5 separate regions of the Homo sapiens genome follow, and regions 1, 2, 3 and 5 are each linked to region 4. Evidence: fine-mapped expression QTL. A gene starts in region 4. Each other region holds a variant in brackets. All regions are shown on one strand. Distances are from middle to middle. Region 1 overlaps IQCE (IQ motif containing E). Region 2 holds the start of MIR4648 (microRNA 4648). Region 3 holds the start of LFNG (LFNG O-fucosylpeptide 3-beta-N-acetylglucosaminyltransferase). Region 4 holds the start of IQCE (IQ motif containing E). Region 5 overlaps IQCE (IQ motif containing E).

The links. PIP is the estimated chance that this variant, and not a neighbour inherited with it, causes the effect.
Region 1: its variant is fine-mapped to the expression of IQCE in whole blood (TOPMed, PIP above 0.99).
Region 2: its variant is fine-mapped to the expression of IQCE in tibial artery (GTEx, PIP 0.95).
Region 3: its variant is fine-mapped to the expression of IQCE in whole blood (INTERVAL, PIP above 0.99).
Region 5: its variant is fine-mapped to the expression of IQCE in esophagus muscle (GTEx, PIP 0.99).

What each region holds. Positions count from the first base shown.
Region 1 is chr7:2,583,625-2,588,624 of GRCh38, forward strand. IQCE (IQ motif containing E) reads left to right here. Exons shown (of 22, transcript NM_152558.5): 10 at 13-85; 11 at 612-661; 12 at 2,584-2,747; 13 at 4,198-4,253. Among named protein-coding and RNA genes, the nearest start is that of IQCE, 27 kb to the left of the region's middle. RefSeq lists an enhancer at 1,334-1,905. The variant TTGTCCCGGAG/T (reference allele first, on the strand shown) is at 2,648.
Region 2 is chr7:2,524,064-2,529,149 of GRCh38, forward strand. LFNG (LFNG O-fucosylpeptide 3-beta-N-acetylglucosaminyltransferase) reads left to right here. Exons shown (of 8, transcript NM_001040167.2): 2 at 632-680; 3 at 1,156-1,255; 4 at 1,351-1,504; 5 at 1,622-1,707; 6 at 2,181-2,346; 7 at 2,773-2,858; 8 at 3,083-4,366. The coding sequence ends at 3,149. It overlaps MIR4648 (microRNA 4648), which reads left to right and starts at 3,011; the gene lies at 3,011-3,082. RefSeq lists an enhancer at 4,306-5,086. The variant G/A (reference allele first, on the strand shown) is at 1,882.
Region 3 is chr7:2,516,146-2,521,275 of GRCh38, forward strand. It overlaps LFNG (LFNG O-fucosylpeptide 3-beta-N-acetylglucosaminyltransferase), which reads left to right and starts at 3,629. Exons shown (of 8, transcript NM_001040167.2): 1 at 3,629-4,148. The coding sequence starts at 3,717. RefSeq lists silencers at 3,155-3,684, 3,695-3,804. The variant G/A (reference allele first, on the strand shown) is at 3,122.
Region 4 is chr7:2,556,911-2,562,035 of GRCh38, forward strand. It overlaps IQCE (IQ motif containing E), which reads left to right and starts at 2,069. Exons shown (of 22, transcript NM_152558.5): 1 at 2,069-2,307. The coding sequence starts at 2,272. RefSeq lists silencers at 1,951-2,460, 2,681-2,750.
Region 5 is chr7:2,607,358-2,612,474 of GRCh38, forward strand. It overlaps IQCE (IQ motif containing E), which reads left to right. Exons shown (of 22, transcript NM_152558.5): 22 at 2,687-5,117. The coding sequence ends at 2,805. Among named protein-coding and RNA genes, the nearest start is that of TTYH3, 22 kb to the right of the region's middle. RefSeq lists enhancers at 2,716-3,289, 3,290-3,863. The variant G/T (reference allele first, on the strand shown) is at 3,085.

The DNA of each region.
Region 1 (5,000 bases), 27 kb after region 4:
TTGGGTTTTCAGCAAACTCCAGACCGATATGAAGACTACCAACCTGGAAGAGATGCGGATCGCCATGGAGACATACTACGAGGAGGTGCGCCGTGCTGGGCGGCGGAGCGGAGGGCGGGCACCGAGCTGGGCGGCGGGGCGGAGGGCGGGCACCGAGCTGGGCGGCGGGGCGGAGGGCGGGCACCGTGCTGGGCGGCGGGGCGGGCACCGAGCTGGGCGGCGGGGCGGAGGGCGGGCACCGTGCTGGGTGGCGGGGCGGAGGGCGGGCACCGTGCTGGGCGGCGGGGCGGGCACCGAGCTGGGCGGCGGGGCGGGCACCGAGCTGGGCGGCGGGGCGGAGGGCGGGCACCGTGCTGGGTGGCGGGGCGGAGGGCGGGCACCGAGTGGGAGGGGACCGGCGCTGGCCCCGGGTGGTGGGCCGAGCCCAGGTGGCCCAGAGCTGTGCTCCTGGAGCCTGCTCCTGCTTCAGCCCAACGGAAAGATGAAGTGCGGCCACTTAGTTCCCGCTTCTGGCCGTAGGCAGCGGTCAGGACTGTGATGTTGGTCTTTTCAGATAAGGTCTTCTCCATGCTAGCCTTGTGTTTTCATGCATTTCAATTTGGTATTTACAGGTGCATCGTCTCCAGACCCTCTTGGCAAGTTCTGAAACCACCGGAAAGAAGTATGATGGCCGCTTGCAAGCTGTGTTTTGTGTGTTGCCTTCACGTTGTGGAAGCTCCTCTGAGAATGTGTGGCTGTCACGTGGGTGCGGCATATACTGCCCTTAGCTTGGCAGTGCTGCCAACACTGCACCTGTTCTGTTCAGGGTTAGAGTTGACACGTTTCCATTTGCAGTGTTCACAGACTCCTCATAGTGACCACGTGTTGATGGCCAACGCGTGTTCAATGCCGCCCGTGTTCGTTATAGATTCTACATCCTGCCTTCCAGCTTAGAGCTAGAAAGTGCTGTTTCAAAGCAGAGCCACCTTTTTAGGAAGACATTGCACACAAGGACAAGTTTACTTTGCCACCTAATGTTTTCCTAAATAAGTTTATCAGGAGAAACACCGAGGTTCTCCTTGTCTGGTAGATCTCCCACATCCCTTTCCCAAAGCTTCCATCTGCTTCTGGGTGGCTGATCTCTGATCATGGCTTTGGCCACGTCACTGGCCTCTGCAGCAGTTTGCTGACGTCGTGGACTGCTTTCCTTTTTCTTTACCCCTAATCCTTAAAACTGGTTGGAAAACTTTTTCTGTAAAGGACCAGATGCTAACTACAGTCGATTCTCATTATTCAGTTATAAAATGTCTGCAGGTTTCTGTAGTGTAGTGGTAATCACGTCCGCCTTACAGAGTTATAAAGTCTCCATGAACATAGAACGAGCGAATACTAAACCACTGCTCCAATGGGAGGTACAGGGCTCCTGCGAGCTTCTGCTCATAACATTTTTTTTTTTTTTTTGGCAAATGTTGCCCAGGCTGGAGTGCGGTGGTGTGATCTCAGCTCACTGCAACCTCTGCCTCCTGGGTTCAAGTGATTATCTTGCCTCTGCCTCCCAAGTATCTGGGACTGTACAGGCACATGCCACCACACCCAGATAATTTTTGTATTTTTAGTAGAGATGGGGTTTTACTATGTTGGCAAGGCTGTTCTCGAACTCCTGACCTCAGGTGATCCGCCTGCCTCAGCCTCCCAAAGTTCTAGGATTACAGGCATGAGCCACCATGCCCAGCCTGGTCACAGCATTTTCATCAGCTAGTCAATGTATAACCTGGCTAACATGTGTCTCTGTTTAAAGACACCCTGTTTAATAGTGATTGTGGATTAATTTTCATCAAACTCATGGCTGGCCTGAACGAGGCTTCTTGCACGCGCATAAGCGTCTCCACGGGGGCCCACACAGCCTTCCTGAGCTTAGAGGCACTGGACGGCACTCAGCACTGCAGTCCAGCCCACGCAAGGCAGCGTCACGAGCAAACAGCACAGAAACGTGAGAGCCACAGCGCCAGGCAGGCCACAGAAAGCACACTTGTTTTTACCTGAGCTGAGGTGAGGAGCTGAGCACCACCTGGGTCAGCCCCAGCTGGGAACGTGCGCGCCAGCGACTGGCATTTTTCATCACCTGTGCACGTGCAAGAATCCCCACAAAACCTGCATGAGTATTGATTTTCGGCTGATGGATCCATTTTAGCAGCAAGCACATTTGCAATTACGGGACCTGCAGATAATGAGGATCGACTGTACTTTACACCTCCTGGGCTAAGAGGCGAAACCCGAGCTATCCTGCAAGCACCTGGCGTAACAAGATGCCTTTCCACAGCCCTTCTAGTGATGGCATGGAAAGTATAATACTGATGGTTGAACACGGTATTTTGTTACACAGGTTTACCTTGCATAAGGATGGGGTTCCATTTTGGGTGCTAACATTTTGCTTATTTAGAGTTCAAAGTTATTACTGCCTATTCGATTTCAAATACTCACCTGCAAAAACCACTCTGAGCTCACAACCAACAGAGCAAGCTGTGATTCACCTGTCCCTCGTTTCAAGCATGTGTGAAACCAGCTTAGCAATGCAAACCTCAGTCCACGATTTGGTTGTTCCAGGCCCCTGGGGGAGAAGAAGACGGGCGCCAAAAGGCAGAAGAAGATGGGCAGTGCCCTCCTGAGC[TTGTCCCGGAG/T]TGTCCAGGAGCTCACGGAAGAGAACCAGAGCCTGAAGGAGGACCTGGACCGCGTGCTGAGCACCTCCCCAACCATCTCCAAGACACAGGGTACCTTCCTGAAAGCCACTCCAGGAGGGAGGCCAGGGAATGGCAGGGAATGGCAGGGCATGGCCACTGGGTAGGCCCAACTGAGGACAGGCACCACGAGGGCAGATGTGAACCCTTGGGCAACGCCAGTTCCCACATGTGCCAGCACCTGCCGCGGGCCACGCGATGCCCCGGGGATGGAGCCGCAAACAGAAGCTCACAGACATCCCTGGAGGAGACAATGCTGTGGGAGGGAGAGAGGAGCTGGGTCAGATGCGTGACATGTGTCAGATGGCTGTAAGTGCCATGGAGGAGGGGAGGAGGACACATTTTGGGGTGAGGCAGGTGGTGTGTGCAGCTGCAAGCAGGGTTGACAGGAAGGCACCCCCAAGACGGTGACAGCTGAGCGGGACCTGGAAGGGGCGAGATAGCCATGAAGACGGCAGCAGGCGTGGGACAGGCGGGGCAGAGCTGAGTGCCTGGGAGACACGTGGAGTGTGGCCCCTGAGGCCCAGCGGGGCGAGGCAGGGTGCCATGGGAGCCTTAGGGGTGCTGTGGGAGTGTTAGGCAGAGGGTGGAGGGGGGCCGTGCTGCTTCCCGAGGCCCCCTGGCTTCTGTGCAGAGATGGGGATGGTGGCAGACAGAGGCTTCTGCGCTTGTCTAGTCGGGCTGCTGGTGGCCTGGATGGGGGCAGCAGTGGGTGTGGTGAAAGGTGTTCAGGGTCTGGTTGCATCTTGTAGCTGGAGCTTAGGGAAACTGCAGAGAGGGTGTAGGCTCTGAGAGGGAGCAGCCAGGCTCCAAGGCTTTTTGTCCCAGCAGCTGAAAAAGACAGAGTTGCTATTTCCTGAGATGGGGGAGGCAGAGGGGCAGGTTTGGGGAAAGGCCACGGGAGGTCTGAGTGTGTGGGAGTGGGGGCCAGGCAGTGGCTGTGTGGGGGTGCGAGGCAGAGGCCTGGGCTGGAGAACTGAGCATGTGGGTCACCAGCACTTAGGTGGATCGAGTGAGGTCACCTGGAGTGAGAGGAGCAGGGGGTCAGGCCCTGAACTTGGCGGTATATGGGGGAGGCGAGGGGCAGCCAGCGAGGCAGAGGGGAGGAGTGGCTAGCGAGGGGCTGTGCATGCCAGGAAGGGGACAGGCTGAGAACCGATTGTTGGATTTGGCAGACTGACAGTCATCGGAGATCTTGATGAGAACTGTCTTAATGGCCTGGCCAGGTGGAATCGGGAAAGGATGTCACCCCGAGATGCTTGGAGGCTGTTAATACAGACATCTATCTCTTCACGATCCAAGGGGGCAGAGACTGGGCCAGCGCTGGCAAAATTCTCTGGTAGCCAGGACCTGTCGGTGTGGCTCTGCAGCCCCGCAGGCTGCTCCGGCTGCGGAAGAGGAGCCTCAGGCCATACCTGAGAAGGGTGGCCCTGCTGGCAGTGCCCACCAGGATGCCGTTTTGAAACCGCATTGCTTCCATCAGGTTATGTGGAGTGGAGCAAGCCCCGGCTGCTGAGGCGCATTGTGGAGCTGGAGAAGGTGAGCGGGCGTCTCAGTGCCACTGTCGTTGGGGACCAGGGGCCTCATGCTGTGGGGACGGGCTCACAGGGTGCGGAAGGTGGCGCTGAGCATGGCACTGGCTGTCTGCCAGGCAGCGCCACACACAGACCGCAAGGAGACTTCTTCCAGGTCTAGACAACGCTGAAGGCAGCTCTCATGCCCCTCGCTGGGCTGTGAGCTTCTGTGCGTGGCCGCAGGCAGACGCGCTTCGCACTGGAGCCCCTCACAGTCCAGCCCGCCTGTGCAGGCTGTGGGCTGTGCACTGCCCGCTGATGACCAGGCACTGCTTCCCACCACTCAAGTCGTGTTGGAATCCACAGGAAATTGTTGACCCAACTCCTGGCCAGGCAGAAATGTCGGGAAATGAACATTTCCCCACATCCCCTATGCGACTGCAAAGTAGGAATTAGGCTGATTCTATTGGAATTGGACCTTTGTTTTGTTTTTGTTTTTGTTTTTTTTTTCTTTTTTTTTGAGATGGAGTCTCACTCTGTCCCCAGGCTGGAGTGCAGTGGCGCGATCTCAGGTCACGGCAACCTCCGCCTCCCGAGTTCAAGTGATTCTCCTCCCTCAACCTCCCCAGTAGCTGGGACTACAGGTGCCCACCACCACACCCGGGTAATTTTTTGTATTTTTAGTAGAGACGGGGTTTCACCATGTTAGCCAGGATGGTCTCGATCTCCTGACCTCGTGATCCACCCACCTTGGCCTCCTGAAGTGCTGGGA
Region 2 (5,086 bases), 33 kb before region 4:
GAGTTAAGGCCGGCCCGGCGCCCCTCTCCCGCCAGCCCAGGACAAAGCTGGCGGACAATGCCTGGTGATTCATCCTCCCTCCAGGCCCTTTGTCCGCCAGGGCTTGGCAGCCGCCCAGCGAAGGCCTTTGTCCCCAACCCCGAGTGATTGAGACTTGGCTTCCCACAGCCGACCTCCTCCGCCTGTCCCTCCCGCCACCCCGCCTGTCCCCCGCCTTTCCAGCAGCCTCCAAGTGGCAGGCTGGGTGCTGTGTCAATAAGGGTGTGTGCCCTGCCAGGTGCACGGGGCGGGTCGGGAACCGGTTACCTGGCGGGCGGGCGAGGCGCACCACCTGGCTCGTGCCTCACCGCGCCTGGACGACCTTGGGTGCAGCTGTCGAGGTTGGGGAGTGAGGCCCCCATCCCCCACCCCCAGGGCGAGTGAATGCGTGAGCTCTGGCCCAGATGGCACTGAGATGGGGCACTTGAGCCCTTCTCAGCACGAGTGGGGAAACCAAGGCCCGGAGAAGGGTGGGTGTCAGTGTGACGCAGCTGCAGCTGCAGCAACTCCAGGGCGCCCCGTCCGGCCCCCACAGATGGCCCTGGGGTGGGGATGAAGGGCTGCCTGCTGAAGGCCGATTTTCTCCTTCCAGACGTTCATCTTCACTGACGGGGAAGATGAGGCCCTGGCCAGGCACACGGGTGAGCCCTGGACTTGGGGCGGGAGGGGGCCCAGGCCTCCATCCAGAGCCGAACGCTCCCCCTCCAGTCTCCCTGCCCCTCTGGGCCGAGAGGTCACCAAGGGCAGGACAGGGAGGGCAGTTTACTCATGGGGTTTGCTCCATGCCCCGCCCCACCACTCGGGCCCCCCAATTCTCATGCAAATGAAGCCCATTCAGCCCCCCGGGTCCCTTTGAGCCCAGGCAGCGGCAACAGGTGGCGGGTGCTGGGAAAAAGCTGCCTGAATGGGCGGGGGCGGGGCCGCCCTGGAAGGGGCTGGGCTGCGGGAGGGTCCACAGGCCCAAGCCCCGAGCTAGGGTGGGGGAGGCTACGGCCGCCGGGCCCAGCTTGAACTAGGGGGCTTTTCTCGAGCCCCTGGGCCCTGTGGCGTCCCCCAGGCCAGGCCCCTCTCTGGGAGCCGGCTCAGACCTACTCACAGCCGCTCCCCTGTCCACAGGCAACGTGGTCATCACAAACTGCTCGGCCGCCCACAGCCGCCAGGCGCTGTCCTGCAAGATGGCCGTGGAGTATGACCGCTTCATCGAGTCCGGCAGGAAGTGAGTGTGGCCCCGGGGGACCCCCATCTCCCTGCCCGAGCCTGGCAGCGCCCGCCCCGGCATGCCCTCCCCCGATGGCCCTGCCTTGTCCTCAGGTGGTTCTGCCACGTGGACGATGACAACTACGTCAACCTGCGGGCCCTGCTGCGGCTGCTGGCCAGCTACCCGCACACGCGGGACGTCTACGTCGGCAAGCCCAGCCTGGACAGGCCCATCCAGGCCATGGAGCGGGTCAGCGAGAACAAGGTGGTGAGTGCCTGCCCCTCCCAGTCCCCCACGCCCACGCGGAGCGCACACCCGGAGTGGGGGTGGGACCGTGAGGGGCAGCAGCGCCTGGGTCTCAGGACACCTTCTCCCTTCTCCCAGCGTCCTGTCCACTTCTGGTTTGCCACGGGCGGCGCTGGCTTCTGCATCAGCCGTGGGCTGGCTCTGAAGATGAGCCCGTGGGCCAGGTGAGTGCCCTGCACAGGTTAGGCCAGCCCGGTCCCAGGCTCCTCGCCACTGTGGGGCCTGGCTTAGTTCATCTTCCCAGCCATGGGGTGTCCCCAGCCTCCTGTGTGGCACTGCCCACTTACTTCCTATATTCCACTTCCCTCTGGGTTTCAGAGGGCAGCTGTGTTTACGGC[G/A]GCTGCCCCCAAGCCTGACCTGCTCAGAGCAGCCAGGGGGGCGATGAGCACCCCAGGCACCATCCGGCAGGACTCTTCCCTGCACCCAGATTCCCTCCACAGAGAGCCACGGAGCACAGGAGCTGTGCAGGGAGTGTGCCCTGGCTGTGGCCAGGGGAGGCAGAGGGAGCTGCAGCCCAGAGCTCTCCTCAGGGCTCCTCTCCCTGAGGAGTGCAGCGCCTTTGCCTGGTGGGGCCTCCCCAGCTCCCAGCAGATGGCTCCCGCCTCTGCTCACTGGTCTGGGCCCTTCCCTCCCGCAGCGGGGGTCACTTCATGAATACGGCTGAGCGGATCCGGCTGCCTGATGACTGCACCATCGGCTACATCGTGGAGGCCCTGCTGGGTGTGCCCCTCATCCGCAGCGGCCTCTTCCACTCCCACCTGGAGAACCTGCAGCAGGTGCCCACCTCGGAGCTCCACGAGCAGGTGCACCATCCTCCGGGCCCCGCCAGGACTCCGAGAGCACAGGAAGGGACGTGTGGCTGCCGAGAGGGGCGCAGTGGGGTGGGGCACTGTTCTAAACAGGGAGGCCAGGCAGCACTCCACTGTCAGCCAGGGGGGGTCACTCCTGCCATGAGCTCAAAGCTGTTTATGGCGGGTTGTTTTCCTGCCGTCTCTTCTCTTCACTGTGATGCGCCTACTGTGCGTATTTTGTCCACGCTGGCAATGCAGCCAGCCCCAGCTGGTCCCCAGTTTGGGACCTTATTCCTGGGGTGTGCAGGGCAGGTGTCCTTCCAGGTCCAAGGGAGGCCAGGGCAGGGCCGTTGCCTCACTCAGGGCTGTGTGGCCAGCCTGGGGCGGGGCCCAGGGATGTCGGGCCCCTCCCGGCATCACTCCGCCCGCTCCCCACAGGTGACGCTGAGCTACGGTATGTTTGAAAACAAGCGGAACGCCGTCCACGTGAAGGGGCCCTTCTCGGTGGAGGCCGACCCATCCAGGTAAGGAAACCCCGGCCCAGATGGGCTTGCGTAGGGTGGCCTAGGGGCGTCAGGGGGCCTCGTGGAGCTGCAGCAGGGTCTCTCTAAGCGGCATGACTCTACATAGAGGTGTCCCCCGGAGTCCTGCTTGCTCGGGGTGGGGCCGCCAGTGTTGTGGGACTGCAAATGGGAGCTCAGCACCTGCCTGCCACCCACGCAGACCAGCCCCTGCTCTGTTCCCACAGGTTCCGCTCCATCCACTGCCACCTGTACCCGGACACACCCTGGTGTCCCCGCACTGCCATCTTCTAGTGGCCATGGCTGAGACCCAATCCCTGGGCGCCCCTGGTATCCAAAGGGCCCAGGGACCCTGTTGCGCTGCCCTGGCCTCGGCATTCGAGGCTCCCCTAGGGCCGTGCCTGTGCGTGTGCGTGTGCGTGTGTGTGTGTGTGTACTGCATGCCCACCCGGGTAGCAGGCTGCTGGGCAGTTCTGCTCTGTGGAGGGGCGGGCACCAGCGCCACTTATGTGCCTCTGCTCCGAGGGCCAGTGGGCTGCAGGGCCTGCTTGGAGGAAGGATTTGTGTGTCGGAGGCCACTCCGAGGGCAATTCTGTTAGGATTTTTGGATCTTTCTACAGCTACGGGGCTCCGGGCTACTTTGCAGGGATGCGATGCGTAGGTGCCTTTCTCTTCCTGCTGACCACAAGCTCTGTGCTGGGGGTACCTGTGCCCTGAAGTCCTGGCCCCTGTGTCATAGCCCCAAGTACGACTCACTGAGCCATGCTCATTGCAGGGGAGGCTGGGTCTGGGGGTGCGTGACCCAATCCCCTTCCTCCTGGCCTGGACGCTGTGGCTTAAGAGTAACAGCAGCCACCGCCCAGTTCCAGTGGCCCCACGAAGCCCCCAGTGGCTGGCTGTCCAGCTGGGCAAACAGTGGCACCCCTCCCAGCTCTTCTGAGTGGGGAGTCTTCCAGGCCTCCTCAGAGGTCTTCCCTTTGCCTCCCCAGGACAGGGTGAGTCAGAGCTCAGCATTTAATCTCCTCTCCAAAGTAGAGAGCAAGTCGCCCACAGTGGGCGTGTCTGTAAATATTGTGACAGTATTTTTTTACTGTGCTGTTTTTTTTGAAAGGGGATGGGTAAAAAGTAGGGTGTTCTTGTTTTTTGCTTGGGAGGGTGGGGGTGGGGGAGGGTCTTATTTTATCTTATCTTTTCTGTGGATCAGAAAAAACAGAAGCCAAACTCGGGGTCATCTTTGTTTTTAAAGCTGAAGTGGGACTGTCTGGCACTCTGTGTATTTATGCGTTCCAGCATCTGGAACCTCCCATCCCTGCCCTCCTCCTGTGTAGCTGCCACCTCCCCGCTGGGCCCAGCATGGCTCACCTGTCCCGTGGGCTGTGTTTCTTGTTGTTTTTCTCTTTGCAAAGACATAGCTAGGAAAGCGAATGATAAGGGAAAAGTTCTCAGGGAATTGAAGTGTTGTTGCTATGGTGACGTCCTTTTGCTGTGAATAAAGGTGCTCTTTGCAGCAATCCTGGGGGTCCTGGTCTTGGCTGGAGGTGGGGCCTAAGCCCCAGGGCAGCCAGGGTCAGGAGAGGCACACAGGTGAAGGGGAGGCTTGGCCTTGGGTGCACCGCATGGAGCAGGTAGATAGGAAACGCTTAGAGACAACTATTTTGGAACGAAACCTGGCGTCACTATAGCTGCCTGCTGGTGACTACAGGTGCGGCCCACCCAGGGTCAGGGTGGTCGCTGGAGCGTGAGCCCTGTGCTTCCAGGAGGAACAGGTCTAGGATGCTGGGGGCTCTAGGTCCCAGCCAAAAGCACAACCCCAAGGCTCTGGCCTGGTCTGGCCACTGGGGAGCCCAGCCCCTGCAGGAGGGACAGTGACTCCTGTGACCGGGCCTGGGGCCTCCTTATCCAACTTCACTCCTGCCACGAGCTCACAGAGTCCACATCATCGCCTCACTTTGCAGGTGGGGAAACTGAGGCACGGAGCAGCTGATGCCCAAGGTCCAGCAGCCATGCTGGTGGGCTGGGGAGGCGCTCAGACTCCAAGCCAGGCAGGCCGTGGGTCCGGCCGCCCCACAGCTGGTAATGCTGCACCTCCCTCTCCTGTGATGTGGCCCCAGGCCCCGACCCCGCTCAGGGGTGGTGGGAAGAGTCCTGGAGAGCAGGAGCAGTGCCGGAGCCCCCACTGCAGCTGGTCCCAGCCCCTGCAGAGATCCAGACGCTTGTTTTTTAAATACAGC
Region 3 (5,130 bases), 41 kb before region 4:
AGGTGCAGGCTTGCCCGAGCCACAGCCACCACCATGCTGAGTCCTGTCCAGGAGTTTCCATCTCTGGGCACTGCTACTGGCCCAGAGGAAGCTGGTTCCCAAGACACTGAGTGGGGCCGCTCTCCATCAGCCGATGAGTGGACAGGCGCCTCGGATGGCTTCCTGCCGAGTTAATGGGTCACCCATTATGTCTCCACAGATCTTCCCAGGACCCTGCAGGAAGGCAGGCCAGAGCAGCCCCAAGGAACAGCCCGGGGGAGGGAAGGCAGATGGCCACCTCAAAGCCAGCCCCGAGCCCTTCCCCTCTAGGCCTGAGTGTCAAGGGCAGACCCAGCCCATGGCTTTGGGGACCTGGTGGCACTGACTCCAGCAGGAGAACCCCCGGGCTGAGCCCTGGCAGTTAGAGGAGGCCTGGACTCAGATGGGGACAGAACACTGTCTCAGCCTGATGGCGGCTAGAGGAGGAGGGTAGGGCCCCTGGTCATGTGGGTCCTGGCTCCGTGGGCCTGCTTTCCACCTGACCTCAGCAGGCAGGTCTCTCGGGCCATTCGCACACCCAGCTGCCTGGGAGCCCCAAACTGGGACTGGTGGAGGGGCCCTGCAGAGGGGAAGACTAGGGTCCAAGAAGCCCATGAAGCCATGCGCCAGGGCCAGAGCTGGCCTGCCTGGTCTGGATGGTATGTCATCCTTGTGTTACAAGTGAGGAAACTGAGGCTCAGGGAGTAACACCACCGGTTCAAGGTCTTAAAGCCGAGAAGTGGCCCCTCTGGGTTCGGAAGGCAGGCTGGGCCCTGGGGCAGCCTCTATCCCCAGCCCCTCTTCCCCAGGACCCTACGGCCCCAAGAGGCTTCACTGGCAACTCGGTCAGCCCTCTCTAGCCCCCTCCCCAGCTCCCCTTTGTCCTGTCCAGGGCTGAGCACCATCCCACAGCCCACTTCCCTACCAGGGCTGTGTGGCCCAGTGGGCCCCTAGAGGGAGACCTGGGGTCTGGATGGGGAGGGAAGTGTTTCAGGCTGAAGCTGAGCCTGGGGAAGCGGGCGGGGGTGGCTAGGCGGGCCACCCCCTCAACAGTTTTCAGACCTCAAGAAGTCACCACGAAATTCCATTCTCCTGACAGCAAAGAAATTGATTCACTCTTGCCAAAGCCTGCGGCCCCCACAAGAATGCTGTAAAGCTTCCTCCCGCTGCTTCCAGACAGGCAGCAGCATCAGGTCCCCCACTCCTCCCATTCCTGGCTACAGAGAGACGCGGGAACCCCCCCTACCCAGTTCTATGCATGTGCCCCTGCCAGGCTGGGCCATCCACCTCTGTATGGTCACTCCCTTGGTACAATATCCCCCTTGCTTTCTCTACAATGGGCACATTGCTCCCACGACCTGCTGGGTCAAAGGCACCGCAGTCAGGGGTAGCTGGGGAGCAGGAGTTGCGGGGGTGGGGCGGCTCAGGGCAGGAAGCCCCATCCCCTGGCCTGGGAACTGTGGGGAGATGGACTCACAGCATCTTGTCAGGTGGGGTGCAGGGTGGCATGGCACCCACCATCGGTGCCACTGATGTAAAGTCCAGGTACAGAGCACAACCCGTGCACATATTTGGGGGCTTGGCCATGCTTGGCTGCAGGGGATTGAGGAGGGATTGGGCCTCAAGAAACGGGGCTGGGACTAAGTCACGAGGTGCGTGAATATCAGGCGGGACTTTAACTCAGCCAGTGGAGAGCTATGGAGGGTTTTGCTCTTTGTGTGGGTGTGTGAGTGGCTATGATCCTAGTTGTCCAGCTGCTGCGTGGAGAATAAGTAAAGCAGGTAGGATAGGAGTGGGTGGGATGGGGGTGGAGGCTGCCCAAGTGATTCAGGGAAGAGATGATGGGGATGGATGAGGCTCCGTCTCTGAAACAATTCAGATATGGGAGAGCCTGAAGTCAGCGGTGTGACTGAAGCACGTGGGGTCATGGACACCCCTCAGTCCGGAGGCTGGGGCTGGGCTGGGACTCAGCTGACTTTGTGGGGGCAGCCAACCCAGTCACTGGGTCCTTTTCTCCCCGGCTCACCCTCAAGCCTCTCCAGCTGCATGGAGGCTCCAGGGCTAGGCTCTGGCTGATCGGAAGGGGTTTATGGCAGGAGGTGACGCCATGGGAGACTTGTCACTTGGGCACAGCCAGCACCATCTGCTGGGGCATCTGCTTTCGGAGGTGGTGACTGCTAATTACCTGGGGCCAGGAAGAGGCCTGGGAACCCCCATCCCCCACACCACCCAGCGGGTACAGGGGCTAGGGGTGGGGCCCCTGGGGCCCTAAGAGCAAATGGGCTACAGCGTCCTTAGCGGGGGGAGAGGGTCTGACAGTGGGGCCAGACATTTATCCAGTGAATTTTTTCAGAGCACCTACTATGTCCCAAAACCTGTTCCAGGTCTGAATGACACCAGGTCGCTGCTGTCTTGCGGCTGACATTCAGGTAGAGGTAAGGAGAGGGGCTCCAAGGGCACTTAAAGAATTTAAAATGCCATCTCAGGCGTGAACATAACTCCGAGGGGGGCAGTTTAGCCACGGTGGTGGCGGTGGTGGTCGTGGTGGTCGCAGAGACCCTGCTTAGGAGGGCACGGGAAGACAGCGCAGCCACGGGCAGAGCCGCCTCCGTCCACGCTTCCGGAGGACGTGGCGGGCAGGGGGCTCACACCCTGCTCAGGCGACCCTTGGCCACTTCCGGGCCCCTCGCCCCTCACCCTCGGCTGCCGGCGCGCATTCCTGCCGCCCCCGCTCGTGCGAGGGGCGGGCCCGGGCCCGTGGGAAGGGCCGGGGATGGGGGCCGTGTGCCGGGGAGGCGGGGTGGGGAGGGCGCACAGCTGGGCCGCATCTGGCCCGAGCGCAAGGAGACCAAATGGGACAGAAGGCGGCCTTTCATCCGGCGAGGGAAGTGGCGGCCTTCGTTTCTCCTCGCCATGGGGCGCCTGAGGATTTCGGGGAGCCAACCCTCCCGACGGAGGGCCAGGATCGAGGAAATCAGCCAGGGAGGAAGGAGTGGAATTTGGTTCTGGTGCTTTCTCGTTAGAACCTCGTGTCCCCACCTGCGGCACAGGTGGCCAAGCTCTTGCTCTGTACAAATAACGGCTCCCCTGAACCGAGCGCTCG[G/A]GAAGACCCAGGCGCCACCCCAGTTTGCAAGGCCTGCCGCGTCCCAAGGGGAGGAAGCCGTGCTCAGGAGGGGAAGCGCACAGCGAGGAAGTAGGATGTCCCCCGCGGTGCGTCGGAGCCCAGAGCCCGGGTCTCAGCACCCTGCCCGCTGCGCCGAGGGCGCGCCCCTCCCGTGCCGGGACGCCCGGTGCATCCCCGGACGGCGCTGGCCAGGCTGGGTTTCCTCTTCAGGGACACCGGCGCGGGCCGGGCCCGTCCCCAAGCCCCTCGGCGGCCCGCAGGGGCTACCCGGGGCGGGGGGGGTGCGGGGCGTGCACGTGCGCGCCGGGGGCGGGGCCGCTGCGCCCTCTGGGCAGTTCCCAGCCCCCAGCCGCGGCCCCACGTGGGTCTGCGGGCGTGGAGCGGCGACCGGCGCGAGGCCCCGCCCCCGAGCCCGGGAGCCAATGAGCGCACGGGGGCGGGACCGGGGCGGGGAGGTTTAAGAGCGCGGGACACTGGTGCTGCGCTGCTGGACTGCGCCGCCGGAGCGACGGGCTTCGGGTCGGTGCAAGGCAGGCGCACGGGGAAGGGCGCGCCGCGCGGCCGCCACCCCACCATGCTCAAGCGCTGCGGCCGGCGCCTGCTGCTGGCGCTGGCGGGCGCGCTGCTCGCCTGCCTGCTGGTGCTCACCGCCGACCCGCCGCCGCCTCCACTGCCCGCCGAGCGCGGCCGGCGCGCGCTGCGCAGCCTGGCGGGCCCCGCGGGGGCTGCCCCGGCGCCCGGGCTGGGGGCGGCGGCGGCGGCGCCCGGGGCGCTGGTCCGCGACGTGCACAGTCTGTCCGAGTACTTCAGCCTGCTCACCCGCGCGCGCAGAGATGCGGGCCCGCCGCCCGGGGCTGCCCCCCGCCCCGCCGACGGCCACCCGCGCCCCCTGGCCGAGCCGCTCGCGCCCCGAGACGTCTTCATCGCTGTCAAGACCACCAAAAAGTTCCACCGCGCGCGCCTCGACCTGCTGCTGGAGACCTGGATCTCGCGCCACAAGGAGATGGTGAGCCCCCCGCGGCCTGGACTGGCGGGCGAGCGGGGCGGGGACCCACCATCTGGTCCAGCTGGTGGCAGTGTCCCATGGGAGTCAGGCTGCATCCCCATCCAGCCACTAGGGCCATCTGTGGGCGACGCCAGTGCACCCCGGTGCACCCAGTTTGCCTGCTGGGGCCACTCTCCCGTTACAGTTGTGTTACTGTCCCCGGGGCCCCGCCTCCTGTCCAGCTCCAGAGTCCTGGATGGCTGCAGGACCCTACACCAGTCTCCAGTGCTTGGGGTTGGTGCCCTGTGATACTTCTCACCCCGTAAACATTGGAGCGCATTCATAGGGCATTATGTCCTCAAACTTCCACAAGCAAATTCTGTTCGGACCCACCCTCAGCTCAGACCCCTTCCTGGGGAGAAAGGCTCTTCCTTTAGAGAAGTGAGGGGTTCTGACCTCTGGGCCCTTTCCTCATCACAGTGTTAAGGTACGGGGAGGGAGGGAAGTCATTGCTGGTTGGTGGGTCCTGGGGAGTACATCTCAAAGAACTCCAGGTTTTGGGGTCTGTGTGGGGACCCTCCCCGCACAGTGCAGTAGTCTCTGAGGCCTGCAACCTTGGGCACAGCCCACTTCAGTTGGGCATCAGCTTCTTACACACACATAATTAAGACACACCCCACTTTGAACATTTCCCTCGAGGCCACAGCAGGACGGTTGGGCTGGGGCGGGATGGGGACAGTGTGTGGGGCTTGCAGTCGGGGACTGGGGGGGTGTCTCTGGGCTGGGAGATGCAGAGGCATTTGCTGTGAGGGTGGGGGCTCAGGGAAGACCCTGCACGCCTTCCTCCCTGCTCAAACCCCGGAGACCCAGGGCCTTCTGACCTGGCGCTGTCCTGTTTTGGGGCACTGTGGGTGGGTGGGAGCAGGGCTTGGTGAGGTCATGAGGGCGACGGGGAGGGGCAGGGTCCTCCCTGGTCCTGGCGTGGGGAAGGGGCCCTGGGAAC
Region 4 (5,125 bases):
CTGCCTCAGCCTCCCGAGTAGCTGGGATTACAGGTGCGGGCCACCACGCCCAGCTAATTTTGTATTTTTAGTAGAGACGGGGTTTCACCATGTTGGCCAGGCTGGTCTCGAACTCCTGACTTTAGGTGATCCGCCCACCTAGGCCTCCCAAAGTGCTGGGACTACCAGCGTGAGCCAACGCGCCCAGCCGTGCTGGGTAACCTTGGAAAAGCAACTTCCCTGACGCTTGCATGCCCCCTGCACACACACACACACGTACATCCTTAGAACTACATGTGTGAAAAAGTTTGAAATGCACAGTTATCTTCCCTGAAATTTGGTTCCTCATTGTGAAATGAGATACTAACATTCACCCAGTTAGGTAATTGTGGAGTAAAGAAAACTCAACAACAGCACTGTGCTAAGTGCTTCACTTACTGTAAACTTGTATGATTCTACAGCAACGGTAGGAGAGTACCACTACCAGCCCATCAGATGAGGAAAATGAGGCACAGAGAGGCTAACTCATAAGGCCTTACAGCTACTGGATTGGCACAGTTTGGATTTGAACCCAAGCAGTCTGGCTCCAGATTTGAATATTGTATTGCACAGGTCCACAATTTTTTTTTTTTTTGAGGTGGAGTCTCGCTCTGATGTCCAGGCTGGAGTGCAGTGGTGTGATCTCAGCTCACTGCAACCTCCACCTCCCAGGTTCAAGCAATTCTCCTGTCTCAGCCTCCTGAGTAGCTGAGACTACAGGCACCCACGACCCCTGGCTAATTTTTGTATTTTTAGTAGAGACAGAGTTTCACCATATTGGTCAGGCTGGTCTCAAACTCCTGACCTCAAGTGATCCACCCACCCTAGACTCCCAAAGTGCTGGGATTACAGGCGTGAGCCACCATCGTGCCTGGCCCAGGTCCACAATTTCTTATCTCAAACTTTTGGGGACAAATGTTTTTTCAGAATTCAGAACTGTTCAGATTTTAGAAATGTGACATGGCACATGTACATTAAATATGAGATTACAGCAGAGTGTGACACACACCCCATAATTAAACGTATTAATAGTTATTCAGGGCCGGGTGCAGTGGCTCACGCCTGTAATCCCAGCACTTTGGGAGGTGGAGGCGGGCGGATCACGAGATCAAGAGAGCGAGACCATCCTTGTCAAGGTGGTGAAACCCGTCTCTACTAAAAATACAAAAATTAGCTGGGCGTGGTGGCACGCACCTGTAGTCCCAGCTACTCGGGTAGCTGAGGCAGGAGAATCGCTTGAACCCAGGAGGCAAAGGTTGCAGTGAGCGGAGATCGCACCACTGCACTCCAGCCTGGGCCACAGAGCAAGACTCCGTCAAAAAAAAAAAAAAAAGAAGTTATTCAGTGAAACTCACTCATGTACACCCCGTGGGATAAATAAGCACTATAAATAGCCTCAGCTCAGAGTTTTCCTCCCGGAGAGTTGAGGTTAGGACTGGTCTGGCCTTCAAATGAGTTGTGAAGGGCTTTCGGAAGTTTGTGGAATTCAGAATCACAGATAAAAGGTCGTAGATAGGCGCTGGCTCTATAATTAGATAAGAGAAGGGCAAAAAGTTTGCGAAGCCCAAGGGTGGGAGAGTGGCAAGAGGTACTTATGCACAGGGAGCACGTAGAGCAAAGCGCCCTGGGTGAGACCCTGAAAGCAAACGAAAGTTTATTATGTGTGTTTGTTTGATTGAGACAGGGTCTTGCTCTGTCGCCCAGGCTGGACTGTAGTGGTGCAATCATAGCTCACTGCAGCCTCGACCTCCTGGGCTCCAAGCGATCCTCCCACCTCAGCCTCCCGAGGAGCTGGGACTATAGGCGTGCACCAGCATGCCTGGCTTTTATTTTTATTTTATTTTTCGAGAGACGGGGTCTCGCTACATTGCCCAGGCTGGTATCAAACTCCTGGGCTCAATTGAATCTCCTGCCTTAGGCTCCCATAGTGTTGGGATTACAGACGCGAGCCACTGCGCCGGGCCGGTTTTTTTCCCCCTCTCAGCCCCCGCGCTCCGCCCCGGGAACTCCGGGAGCGCTCCTGGTCGGCCGGCCGGCGCCCGCGGACTCTGCGCACGCGCATGGTCGCCCCAGGGGGAACGCAGGTCGCTTACCCGGCTGGGTAGGTCGGCGGCCTGGTTGCCATGGCAGCGGGGTCGCGGGCCGGCGCCAGGGAAGGCCCCGAGGCTGCGGGCGGCCAGGGCTGCCCGCGGATTCCCAGACCCGGACGCCCGAGCCAGCAACCCTGAGGGGCGGCCGGGCAGCGCCGCCACCATGTTCCTGGGCACCGGGGAGCCGGCCTTGGACACGGTAAGAACGGGCGAGGGGGCGACGCCGGGCGGGCGTCCGCGAGGCCTCGGCTCGTCTCCGTCGCCCGCAGCCTCGGGGCCCCGCGCAGGGGCCGGCCCGGGGCGTGAGGACGGGGCGCACGGCCGGGTGACAGCTGCCATTATTGTTACCGCACAAGAGCGCGCTGCAGGCCCCGCGCCGCCTGCAGCCTCGCCCGCGCCCGCTTTCGCAGAGGCCGCCGCTTCCAGGAAGCTCTCCGGGACGCCGCGCCCTCGCCTCTGGGCGCCTGCGAGTCTGCGGCCCGCAGGTGACGGAGCTCACGGTGTAAGTGCCTCCGGGCACCCCCGATCTAAGGCGGGATCCACGGATCCCGTGTGGCCCCAAGCCTTCGGGGTGGGAGGGAGGCAGCCCCAGGGTCTGGGAACCCAGCTTGGTCAGAGGAGGCTTCCTGGAGGAGGGTGGGGCCCGATGTACTCCCCAGGGCGAGGGTGCATGAGCCTTAGGTTAGTTACTTTGCCCGGTAAATATCTACTGTGTGTTAGAGACACGGGAATAAGCTGCATTCCAGTGGGGGGGGGGGGGGGGGCGGAGGGACAAGGTAATAAACAGGTAATTAAGATCGTGTCAGAAAGTGAGAAGTGCTGTGCAGAAAATGAAACAGGCCCATATGGCCGGGAGCCGTGGCTCAGGCCGGTAGTCCCCCGGTAGTCCCTGCACTCTGGGAAGCCGAGATGGGAGGATCGCTTGAGGCCAAGAGTTCCAGACCAGCCTGGGCAACATCGCAAGACCCCATCTCTACAAAAAACCATCACATTAGCCGAGCTGTGGTGGTGCCTGCCTGTAGTCCCAACTACTCAGGAGGCTGAGGTGGGAGGATCGCTTGAGCCCAGGAGGTGGAAGCTACAGTGAACTGTGATCATGGCCCTCCAAGGCCTGAGAGACAGAGTGAGGCTGAGGTGGGAGGATCGCTTGAGCCCAGGAGGTGGAGGCTACAGTGAACTGTGATCATATCACGGCCCTCCAGCCTGGGCAACAGAGTGAGGCCCTGTCTCAAAAAAAAAGAAAGCCCGTTGGGACGCGGGCAAGGAGACTGAGCAGAAGATGGGCATGAGCCTGACTATGGGGAGTCCTGCTGGCCATGCAGGGAATTTGGATTTTATTGGAGAAACAGAGGAAGCCTTTGGAAGGTTTCACATCAAGGGAACTGTGCTCACCTTGCTTCCTCCTAAGGAGACCACAGGGTTCAGCACAGCTGCACCCGCAGTAGGGGCTTGGTGCTGCTGGCCAACTTGGAGCAGCTGAAGTTGCCTGCTTGTTCCCCAGGGCACCACGTCCTGTCTCATCTGGAGGGCCTGCCTGTCTACACTGGCCTTCAGTTACTGCTTCTTCATCTTTAAGAACAAAACTGCTTGTTGTGATTATAAAAATAATTTATGTATATTATTTATTTTTTATTATTTTTTTAAGACAGAGTCTCTTGGCCGGGCACGGCGGCTCATGCCTGTAATCCCAGCACTTTGGGAGGCTGAGGTGGGCAGATCATGAGGTCAGGAGATCGAGACCATGCTGGCTAACACAGTGAAACCCCATCTCTACTACAAATACAAAAAATTAGCCGGGCGTGGTGGCGGGCGCCTGTAGTCCCAGCTACTTGGGAGGCTGAGGCAGGAGAATGGCGTGAACCCAGGAGGTGGAGCTTGCAGCGAGCCAAGATCGTGCCACTGCACTCCAGCCTGGCAGCAGAGTGAGACTCTGTCTCAAAAAAAAAAAAAAAAAAAAAAGACACAGTCTCGCTTTGCCACCCAGGCTGGAGTGCAATGATGCCATCTCAGATCACTGCAGTCTCTGCCTCCCAGGTTCAAAGGATTCTCCTGCCTCAGCCTCCTCAGTAGCTGGGACTACAGGCGCCTGCCACCACACCCAGCTAATTTTTCTATTTTTAGTAGAGGTGGGGTTTCACCATGTTGGCCAGGCTGGTCTCTAACTCCTGACCTCAGGTTATCTACCTGCCTTGGCCTCCCAAAGTGCTGGGATTACAGGCGTGAGCCATTGCTCCCAGCCCTATGTAGATCTTTGATTTCTTTCAGCAATGGTTTATATTTTTCAATGTACAAAGCCTATGCTTTTGTTAAATTTATTCCTAAGTATTTTATGCTTTTTGATGTTATTGTATATTGAATTTTCTTAATTTCATTTCAGCTTATTTACTGCTAATATATACAATAATTTTTTTTTTTTTTTTGAGATGGAGTCTTGCTCTGTTGCCCAGGCTGGAGTGCAGTGGCGCGATCTCGGCTCACTGCAAGCTCCGCCTCCCGGGTTCATAGCATTCTCCTGCCTCAGCCTCCCGAGTAGCTGAGACTACAGGCGCCCGCCACCATGCCCGGCTAATTTTTTTGTATTTTTGGTAGACACGGGGTTTCACCTTGTTAGCCAGGATGGTCTCGATCTCCTGACCTCGTGATGCACCCGCCTTGGCCTCCCAAAGTGCTGGGATTACTGGCCTGAGCCACCACGTCCGGCCTTACAATAATATTTTTATATGAATCTCATATCCTGCAAACTTGCTGAACTCATTTATTATGTTTACTAGTTTTTTAGTAGATTCATTAGGATTTTCTATGTATAAAATCATGTTGTCTGTGAATAGAGATAGTTTTACTTCCTTCTTTTCAATCTGAATGTCTTTTATTTACTTTTCTCACATTAATGTCCTGGCAAAAGACTCAAGTATAATTTGAATTGAAGTGATGAGAAAGGACAGCCTTGTCTTGCTGCTGCTATTAGAAGGGAAACATTCCGTCTTCCTCTGTTAAATATTGTGTTGCCCTGGATTTTT
Region 5 (5,117 bases), 50 kb after region 4:
TCTGAACTAAGCGTCGCCTTATGCCAGGAAGGCCCACAACAGGGCCCCGCCTTGGCCCAGCTTGTCCTTTGTGCCTGGAATTGCCGAGGTCCTTGCTGTCTTTATTTTTTGCTCTCAGCTCCAACAGGACCGAGGTGGCTTCCTCCTTCAGGCCAGCATTTCTCCTGTTTGTTTGTTGAGTAAAACCGTGTTATTGTTTCCTTTTCTACTTTGTTAAAGTCCAAAAACAGTCAGTGAAGAAGCCGCTGGCACTGCAGGATGCCACACCCTGGTGTGAGGCCTCATCCCTGCTCTGCCCGGAGCTGACGGGGATGCCCCAGCAGGCCCTGCCTTTCTCTGGCCGTCAGTCCCTTCATGTTTAAAGTAGAGAACGGGCTAGACAGCTGGAAAGCCACTCTCCACCCCAAATCTATGCTGCTCTGCGTGGACTTGAGATCCCGTGTCTTATCCTGCAATTAGAAACCCCCCATTGACACCTCCTGTAAAGGGAAGATGAGTGCGGAGGCACGCTGTTGAGACTCGGGACTGTCGGGAGATGGAGAAGGGCAGCCTTAAGACCCTGTTGAGGAGGGGAGTGTGGCGTGCGGGGCTGTTTCACGTGGGAAGTGTCAGGCGAAGGGCTTTGCTGTGCTGAGTCCTTAGGTCTCCAGGGTGGAGTCAGGGAAGGAGGAGAGAGAACAGCAAGGAAAACCACAAAGGAAGAGGCTCTTCTGAGCCCAAAGGGTGAGGGTGAGGAAGGCCAGGGGGTGAAGGAAGGGTGAGGCCTGCCCAGGACCCACATGCCTTAATTTGAATGTCCCTTCAGGACGGGCCCAGGGAGCCGGCAGCCCCCCAGTACCACTCCAGTAAGTGTGGGGGCCCGTGGCGGGCGGAGGCCTCGCTTTCCTGGGAGATCCCTCCTGTGCTGACGCGGAGTCACGGAGTTGGGAAGAGGCCGTTTTGAGGCCCGCATCAGACCTGGAGCCCGAGAGCCTTCCCTCCCCAGGGGGTCCCGCTAGGGGCTGTGTTTTAGAGAGTCTCCTGCACGAGCTAAGAACCGTATACCACGTTTGACCTGGAAATACCACGTATGAAATCACATTTTATTTTCATTTTTTAACCTAGTTTCGTCAGAGCTAGAAAACTTTGAACTTTGATATTCTCTCCAAAACTTCCATTTGTAAAGCTCAACACAAAGATGAGCAGCCTGGGGTTTCGGGGAGAATGTACAGACACGCAAAGCGGTCGGGCCGGCCTGTGACTCGTGGGCTCTGCAAAAGGCTTTCAGTTGTTCTCCGGGAGCCGATTCTACCGGCTTCGCCAGACCCTGCCTTTGGTGACCTTTAGAGGCTTTGATCAGGGCTAAAGCGTGCGTTGATGCTGCCCTTTTCTCTTGCTCAACGCAAGTGATTTTAAAGACGCAAGTTCATCCCCGTGACCCAGGGATTCAGCTTTATTGACCTAAGGAAATGTCTCTGTGAAAAGTATAAATCAAGCTTTTGTTTGAGCTGATTGGTTGTTTTTGAAGATAACCATGAAAGCTGTTTTTAATTTCATAAGGTTCCCCTTTAATATGAATTTTCTTGAAAGTTGCAGGAAAAAAAAGCTGACACAGTTACAGTATCTGCGGCATGGCCGAATTGCCATTTCCTTCCCTTTTTAAAATCTCACATGAGCAGTTCATTACTTTTTTACTTTCGTCTTTCAAGGCAGCGACACTCAGGCTCCCCGGCAAGGAGCTCTGGGGCTGCTGCTGTGGTAGGACCCGTCCCTTCTTCAGCTCTGGTACCCACCTCCATCCCGTCTGTAGGTGGCGTCCCATTCTAGAATGGATTAAAAGTTTGGAACGCTCTAGATGCTTAGGAAGGAGCATCCAAGGGGGAATGGCCGAGCAGCTTGCAAGCTCACAGCGATCCGTGCCTTGCCCCCTCCTGCCCTCTATACCAGTGGCCAGCGAGTTAACAGGGAAGTTGGCTTTTTTTTTTTTTTTTTTGAAGTGCAGTCTAGCTGTGTTGCCCAGGCTGGTCTGGAACTCCTGGGTTCAAGCCACCCTCCCACCTCGGCCTCCAGAGTCCTGGGGTTACAGGCATGAGCCACTGCACCCAGCAGAAACGCTCCTACACACGGGTAGCCACCCACCCAGGCCCCAGACTCCTGGACTGCTGCTGTGGGAATGGCTTTCAGGGAATGACTCCAGTGTGGACTCGAGGTTCCTCCATGCTGGCAAATGTCTGCTTTTGCAGGTGTTTTGACTGGGGGAAATGGTGAGAATACTCAGAGCTGAGTTTGAAGGTGAGGAGAGTGAGGCTTTCTGGCAGGTGTGTAAGTTGGTCCTGAGGCTGGAGAGTGAGGCTTTCTAGCAGGTGTGTAAGTTGGTCCTGAGGCTGGAGAGTGAGGCTTTCTGGCAGGTGTGTAAGTTGGTCCTGAGGCTGGAGAGTGAGGCTTTCTGGCAGGTGTGTAAGTTGGTCCTGAGGCTGGAGAGTGAGGCTTTCTGGCAGGTGTGTGAGTTGGTCCTGAGGGCGGAGAGTGAGGCTTTCTGGCAGGTGTGTGAGTTGCTCCTGAGGGCCTGTGTGCCCCATGGCTTACTGCTTCTCGGGGTGGCTGCCGTCTTGCCTGCCGGGGAAGAGCAGACAGTGTAAGGGTGTCCGTGGTGGCAGCCCCTGAGGTCAGCGTGGCTGACCCCTCTCCCTGTGGTTCATTTCTGCAGACCCCTCTCCCTCAGGGCCACAGGCCTTGGCACCTCTACCTGGGGATGACGTCAACTCCGATGATTCCGACGATATTGTCATTGCACCGTCTCTGCCCACGAAGAACTTTCCAGTTTAGGTCCCCGTCACTGTCTCCACGCCGTGATGGCAGCGCTGCCGAGGACATAGGAACCACGACTGGAAAGATAATTTATCGTGTTAGGAGAAGAACGATGATACCTACTTAACACCTCAGCATCTGCGTCGTGTCTCTTTGTGCTTTTGTTTGTGGAAGGAGACCCAAATGCCTTTACTTTATTCTCTGGGGAGGGCCAGCGGCTCGCATCCCCCTCATCTCCAGCTGCAGCTCGGATGGTGGATTTTCAGTGCCAACAGACACATCTGCCGTGAACTCGCA[G/T]ATGCCAGGGAGCCCTGTAGTGACACGTTCTCTGACAGCACCTTGCCGCCTGCCCACGACCTTGACCGTGAGGAGCTGCTATCCGCAACCAGCGCCGACACCATGCCCCCTCTTCCTGGTGACACCCTCAACAACCAGGATTTGCTCGATCTCAGCCCAGCAGGCCAGGCAGACACACCCCGCTGTGCCTTAGGAAGGTGTGAGACCGGCTTCCCCCATCCCCACAGCAAAACACGGCCTGTCCCAAGCCAGTGAGGAGCTAAAGACACCCAGGTCCCCAAATGATCTTACTCCATGCCCCACCCGCTCACACCGTCCTTTCCCGTCACCCTTGCTATCCCCTGGAGCACTGCCCTCCAGAGCTGCCCTTCCCAGGAAGGAATTTGGTTGGATTCTGTCACTGTGGAGACCAAGATTTTTTAAAATTCCCAATTACAAAAGCAGCATCACACTTGCTTCTGAGAACAGCAGGGTGATGTCTGTTCCCAAGCTGGTGGCGGGAGCCTTAGCCTGTGTGGGGCCACCCGGGGAAGAGGAGGAGAGGAGGGTGAGGAGGCAGGCTCGCCGTTCCAAGGGACAGCATAGGCTCGTGGTGGGGCGTGTTGCATCTGGTGTCTGGGACAGTCCCCGTCACCCCATGTGTGCGGCCTCTGCACTCCCAAGCTCCATGGCTGGGCTGGGCTGGGCTGGGCTGGGCTGGGCCGGGCGTGCGGAGCCTGTGGAGCCAGCAGCTGCAGAGGCCTAGGAGGGAGTTCCTGGGGGAAGCGCACAGTGTCCAGTGCCCATCTCTTGCTTGTGTGTGAGATTAGCCCTTGCTGGGGCGTCAAGAGGAAGAGCCTTAGACCTGGGCGGGCCTTCAGGGGCATCTAGACCCCTGCACAGCCCAGGCCTGGTGTCTGCATTTCCACAGCACCCCTGTGGGGACTCCTGCCGGGGCTGGCCGCTGTCTCAGGAGAGACCCAATGGTTAGAAAGCCCCTTTTTACACAGCTGACAGCTTCTCCCAAGGCTTCCGTCCACGGGGACAGGCTTAACCCCTGGGCGCCTTTTCTGCAGCATGGCGGCCTTCTGAGTCACCTAAGCTGAGCCTGGGTCATTCTCTGTGGCGGTCAGAAGGCCGATGGCCCCAACACAGTGGCTTGTGAAAGGGAGAGAGGAGGCTCTGCATGTCCACCTGCTCTATGGGAGGAGGACACAGGTGTCCCCAGCCCAGCCTGTTCTCTCCCAGTCACTCAGGGATGGGGCCACCCAAAGTGCAGGACCCGCCCCACCCTGCGGTTCGAAGCCTGGCCCCTGTCTCCACTTAGCTTCTGTTTCTGCAGTGGGTGGAAGCGAGTCAGCGGGGGGCCTGGCTTGTGTACGTGTTTTCCTTATTTGGTCTGTGGGTTGCCAAGTCCATTTTTTTTTCCACTGAACTGGCTGGTAACTTGATGGACTGTGTAACTGACACAGGCCCTCTTTAGACCCCTGCCTTCACCCCACCCGCCCGGGTCCACTCCCTGGGGCGCTGTCCCAAGCCATCCCTGCTTGCCAGCTCAAAGCTTCAGGTCCTAGGAGCCAGTCCACCTCGAAAGCCCTGAGAAAGTGAGACACCTGCACATTCGCTGGGGGAGACCCTCCGTTCTCTTGTGGCAGCTGCTCCCACTTGTTAAACCAAGCTGTTTCTGCGGGACGTGCTCACTCTTGGGAACCAGTGGCCTAGAGCTTTGGGTTACAGGCATGGAGAGGGCTTTCCTGCCTCAGGCTTGGAGGCCAATGTTCCATACATAAACCGCCATGTCCTCTGGTGCAGCTGGGCTGCTCTTTTAAAAGCCAGCATCCATCTTGAAGCTCGCTGGGTAAATGGCAATGCATTCTCAAGCCAGTGTCTTCAGCTGATGCCCAGTGTCCAGTGCTGGTCACCAGTCCCCTTTGCTGGGTACAGCCTGCCTGGCTGTTCTGTGGTCCTGGAACGCTGCAGTGTGGTTTTGTTCCATGGAGACAGTACCAAGCGGAGAGGCCTCCTTGCCCACGGCCCCAGGGCCTGGGGGCCAG